Regions from separate parts of the Homo sapiens genome. Here region 2 is linked to region 1. Evidence: fine-mapped expression QTL. A gene starts in region 1. The other region holds a variant in brackets. All regions are shown on one strand. Distances are between the middles of the regions. Region 1 holds the start of SHLD2 (shieldin complex subunit 2). Region 2 overlaps SHLD2 (shieldin complex subunit 2).

Evidence for each region.
Region 2: its variant is fine-mapped to the expression of SHLD2 in whole blood (INTERVAL, PIP above 0.99).

Annotation. Positions count from the first base shown.
Region 1 is chr10:87,093,632-87,096,652 of GRCh38, reverse strand. It overlaps SHLD2 (shieldin complex subunit 2), which reads right to left and starts at 1,447. Exons shown (of 10, transcript NM_001330112.2): 1 at 1,405-1,447. It overlaps GLUD1 (glutamate dehydrogenase 1), which reads left to right and starts at 1,810. Exons shown (of 13, transcript NM_005271.5): 1 at 1,810-2,328. The coding sequence starts at 1,884. RefSeq lists an enhancer at 797-856 and silencers at 899-1,156, 1,077-1,776, 1,897-2,036, 2,237-2,576.
Region 2 is chr10:87,179,658-87,182,157 of GRCh38, reverse strand. It overlaps SHLD2 (shieldin complex subunit 2), which reads right to left. Exons shown (of 10, transcript NM_001330112.2): 8 at 1,855-2,083. Among named protein-coding and RNA genes, the nearest start is that of NUTM2A, 45 kb to the left of the region's middle. The variant G/TG (reference allele first, on the strand shown) is at 940.

The DNA of each region.
Region 1 (3,021 bases):
GAGACCGCTAACGCTAGTAATGTGGTGTTTGGCAGCTAGTTTTAATGACTGTCATTAGAGCTTTATTTTTTATTTTCTTTTTATAGAGACGAGCCCAGGCTGGTCTTGAACTCCTGGCCTCAAGCGATCAGCCTGCTTTGGCCCCCAAAGTGCTGGGATTACAGGCGTGAGCCACCGTGCCAGCCTCGTTAGTTTGAAAAGCACCAAAAGCTATCCATAGGAATGTGAACTTTAGCATTTCCTATCAAGTATGTATAAATACATAACTGAACCCTCATACAGCATAAAGCTTATAAATCATATACTGAGGCCAGGCGCGGTGGCTCACGTCTGTAATCCCAGCATTCTGGGAGGCCTAGGCGGGCGGATCACTTGAGGTCAGGCGTTGGAGACCAGCCTGGCCAGCACAGCGAAACCCCGTCTCTACTAAAAATGCAAAAATTAGCCGGGCGTGGTGGCGCGGGCCTGTAATCCCAGCTACCCCGAGGCTGAGGCAGGAGAATCGCTAGAACGAACCCAGGGAGGTGGAAGCTGCAGTGAGCCGAGATGGTGCCACTACACTCCCGCCTGGGCGACAGAGCAAGATTCCATCTCAAATAAATAAATAAAATAAAAAATAAATCATATACTGAACCATTTAACAAATACATATATTCCTGAGAAAGAATTTCCTGGGGGCATTATCGCATTTCTAGTTTCCTTATTTTAGACTATTTCAGAGGGAGATAGGGTCTCCCTCTGTTGCCCAGGCTGGGGTGCAGTGGAGCTATCGTAGCTCACTGCAGCCTCGAACTCCTGGGCTCAAGCCATCCTCCAGCCTCGACCTCCCAAAGTGCTAGGACTAAAGGCGTGAGCCACCGCGCCGGGCCGGAGCCTCTGTCTGCAAAGGTGAAGCAGTCAGTACTGTGGGGCGACACAACCACGACGTGCGTAACTATGCGATCTCCACACTGCGGAGCAGTTGAACGGGACAATAAAAGCTCGCGTGGTGAGAGCTTGTGGGCGAGTGACTCCCTTCCAGCTCACGCCAGCCACGCATAATCCAACTCCGGGTGCCACGCCGCTCTCTGCAGCCCTGGCTGGTGACGCCGAGCCCTCAGCCCGGCCTTACGCGGCGGCGGCTCTGCCTCGCTTTCCTGCCCACGTGTCAGCCCCTGCACGCCCGGCCCCGGCCTGAGGCCGCCAGAGGACAGGCCAGGGTGGGCCGCCCGTTCCGAGGGCGCGCGGGCGGAAAGGAGGGGCGCCCGTGACTCACATGACCCGGTCCCCGACCAGACCGCCAAGCCTCACCCACGCGGCGCTCGGGGGGACTCGGCCTCTGAGCGCCCTACAGAGGCCAGCCCCCGACCCCGACCTCCCTGGGCTACCCCCAACCCCCCTGAGGGACCCCCGCGGCGCACATACCTGAGAGCCCCGCCGGAGGCGGGTGCGGCCTCCGGGCAAATCCGGCCGCCCGTGGGCCCGCCCCGACCCGCCCCGACCCGCCCCGACCTTCCCCTCCCTGCCCCTCCCGTCCGTTCCCCTCCACTCTCCTCCCCGCCCTTCCTCTCCCCTCCCCTCCCTTCCCCACTGGCGCGCGAGCGTGCGCGCCGAGCCCGCCCGCGCCTGCGCGCCCCCGACGCCCCGCCGGCGCGCGCTGCCGCCAGCGAGGCCCGGGGAGGCCGCGGCGGAGGCGGAGGCCCGGCGCCCTGGGCGGCGCCCTGTCCCCGAAGTCCGTCCTCCCCGTTAGGTGGCGAGCGCCCGAGGGGAGGGGACAGCCGGGCAAGCAGGAAGCTGCGGCTTAAAAGGGCAACCCGCGCGGGACCCTTCCTCCCTAGTCGCGGGGAGTCTGAGAAAGCGCGCCTGTTTCGCGACCATCACGCACCTCCCCTCCGCTTGTGGCCATGTACCGCTACCTGGGCGAAGCGCTGTTGCTGTCCCGGGCCGGGCCCGCTGCCCTGGGCTCGGCGTCCGCCGACTCGGCCGCGTTGCTGGGCTGGGCCCGGGGACAGCCCGCCGCCGCCCCGCAGCCGGGGCTGGCATTGGCCGCCCGGCGCCACTACAGCGAGGCGGTGGCCGACCGCGAGGACGACCCCAACTTCTTCAAGATGGTGGAGGGCTTCTTCGATCGCGGCGCCAGCATCGTGGAGGACAAGCTGGTGGAGGACCTGAGGACCCGGGAGAGCGAGGAGCAGAAGCGGAACCGGGTGCGCGGCATCCTGCGGATCATCAAGCCCTGCAACCATGTGCTGAGTCTCTCCTTCCCCATCCGGCGCGACGACGGCTCCTGGGAGGTCATCGAAGGCTACCGGGCCCAGCACAGCCAGCACCGCACGCCCTGCAAGGGAGGTGAGCGTCGGCCGGGCCCCGTCCCGCCCTCCCTGCCTCCCCTGCGGCCCTCCCCTCCGGCCTCCTGCCGGTGCGGGGCCGCTGCTCAGCCCAGCCCAGCCCAGCTGGAGCGGGCCGGGTCCCCGCCCGGGTCACCCCGCCTCGGATGTGGCCGGCTCTGTGGATGGTGATTTTTCCGCCTTAAAATCATCATGCGATTGGCCTGCCCCCTCCCCCGCGCCGTCACCCCGGGCCTCTGTATATGCTGATCTTGCATGCAGAGTAGACGCTGCACCGGTCTCCTTTTGGTCCCGGTGTCTGTGTCACACACGGCGGGTCCTGCCGAAATGCACTTCTAGGAAAGGGAATGACCTGCCCGTGTGATAATGCCTCGTCAGTGTTCTTGGGCTTTTGTGAGTCTCCCCTAAATGCAAGCTGTCAAATTATTTTCTGGTATTTGTTCACTCCTGTTCCAATAGTGACAGATGATATCCGAACATAGAAAATGACTTGGCTTCTAAGTTTGAAATCTAGACAGTTTTATTAACCAAAGGAATTTACTAATCACGCGTTAATCGTTTCAATTAAGTAATTTTCCCATTCTGACAAGTTCTGTTTTATACCAAAAAAAAGGAAAAACACAAAAAAATCACAAGCAATGTAATATCTCTGACAAATAAACACCTGGCGTCCTGACAGTAAATTTACAGGTTG
Region 2 (2,500 bases), 86 kb before region 1:
TGATAACTTGAAGGGAGTTTGTTAATTTCAATATTTTCTTTTCAAGGAAACCATATAATCTGGACTCTAATAACAATTTAAAGGCTTTTAGGCTGCACTTGGTGGCTCACACCTGTAATTCCAGCACTTTGGGAGGCTGAGACGGGTGGATCACCTGAGGTCAGGAGTTCGAGACCAGCCTGACCAACATGGAGAAACCCTGTCTCTATAAAAATACAAAATTAGCCAGGCGTGGTGGCACATGCCTGTAATCCCAGCTACTTGGGAGGCTGAGACAGAAGAATCACTTGAACCTGGGAGGCAGAGGTTGCGATGAGCTGAGATCGCACCAGTGCACTCCAGCCTGGGCAACAAGAGCGAAACTCTGTCTCAAAAAATAAAAAAAAAAGGCTTGTAAATAAATAAAAAATAATAATTCTTGCCTTAACATGACCATTCAACATTCTAGTAAGACAACAAACTAGCACTACATCTTTAATGTGGTATAGTTTAGGAAGAGATCTTAAATACCTCATACTAGTTATGCCATAATCAGGTGATACTGATCTGTGAAGTCCTTCTCTTGAACAGTCATTTTGTAAACTAAAGATTCAAAGGCCCTCCTCCCCATAAGGAATAGTATTGAGCAACATTTTTGTCCAATAAATGCTTATATTGAATAGAAACATTTGGAATGACATAAATAAGTCACCTATACATACTTTTGAGGGGCCTTAACTATTAATAAATCAATGTTGTTTGTTACATACCATGCATTTTTTGTTTTGATTTTGAGACAGGGTCTCACTCTGTTGCACAAGCTAGAGTGCAGTGGTGCAAACATAGCTCACTGTAACAATCGATCTCCTGGGCTCAAACAATCCTCCTGCCTCAGCCTCCCAAGTAGCTGGGACTACAGGCCTATGTCACCTGCCCAGCTTTTTTTTTTTTTTTTTTTTT[G/TG]GTAGAGATGGGGTTTCCCTATGTTTCCCAGGCTGGTCTTGAACCCCTGGGCTCAAGCGATCCCCCCACCCCGGCCTCCCAAAGTGCTGGGATTACATGCGTGAGCCACCACACCCAGCCTACCATACATCTTAATTCAATCTTCTTTTCCACAAAAGCAACTTTCACAGTAATAGCAAAATTTATTCACTTATTTATAACAAACATAATATCTGTAAAGAGAAATAAGGTTTACAAATTAAGCTTCTATAACTTTTCTTGAAGTATGCCATGATAACATGTGGAATATATCTGAATTTGGTTTTTAGATACCGCAATATTTAGAAATAATCATAAGGAGCATAAAACACTGAGTGCTATTTTGTAAACACATGTAATTTATGAGGTAAAGAGAAAAATATCTGAGCTTTTGACTACCTATTATTCAAAAAACAATGTGTTTTTCACTGAGCTGATTAGCAGTTTTACCATACAACATTTATTTGCTAGCTTTAATTTCTAAGGTAAAGGTGGGAAAACACCTTAAATGTCTTACTAGCTTCCACAACAACTCAGAGGTGAGATCATATGATACTTTTAGCCCTTAAATTCTATGTTAAGGTGGGAAAATGAGTTATTTATGAGCATTTAGATTTTGGTTAAAAAGTAAACCAAGGAAAATGTTTCTTTGGTACAGCTGTTTGAAGACAATAAAATCTCCCAATTACTGCTTTAAGAAATTCCTATCTTTAAGAAATTCCTATAACGATTCCTGGGTAATTTTTGCTTCCATAAATAGCTATCTATCACTCGGAAAATTTTATTCTCTTCGACTAGCTCTAGTTAATTATTTTTAGAAAGTAAGGGTTTACAGACTAATTTTTCCAGATCTATAATAATTATTTTCCATCAAATTGGCTTGCTTAGTTGCCTTACCTATAATATATTTTCTTCATAGTAAATGGCAAGCAGCTAAAACATTGTTTGTAGATCCTGTTCTCATCTGTTTCTAGTTCCAATCCACATTTTGCACAACCAGTATATACGATGTTGGGAAGAGAAGAAAAAATACTCTTCAGAGAACTGTGAGCATTTAGCGCTATCTTCTGAGATGCTGTAATAGGAAATGCCAGCTCTGAAATCTGGGCTTTAATCAGAACCACTCCTACAAACAACAAACAGATATATTATAAATTATTGGGCCAAAATTATAACTTTAATTTACAAACATGGCTAATTTTATAGTTGATTTACAGTCACTTGTAGTAAAAGGATACACTGAGGTCTTGTTCTTCGTCTTCTTTACTATTTTCCTAGAATCTAAGGGCAGGGATGTCTGGCTGCAACTGAGAGCAGGTTTACTTGGCTAATTTGGCTGAACATGTGATGTTTCCTTCCTTCCCCATCCTCTGGAATCAGGCAAAATAAGTTCAATACCTCCTTTAGAAGAAATCCCTTCGAATACTTGAAACTAGCTAACATGTCCTCTCTCCTTGCCCTGTCTTCTCTTAAACTGATCATAGTGAAAAGCCAAATAGGGGCCGGGCGCAGTGGCTCACGCCTGTAATCCCAGCACTTTGGG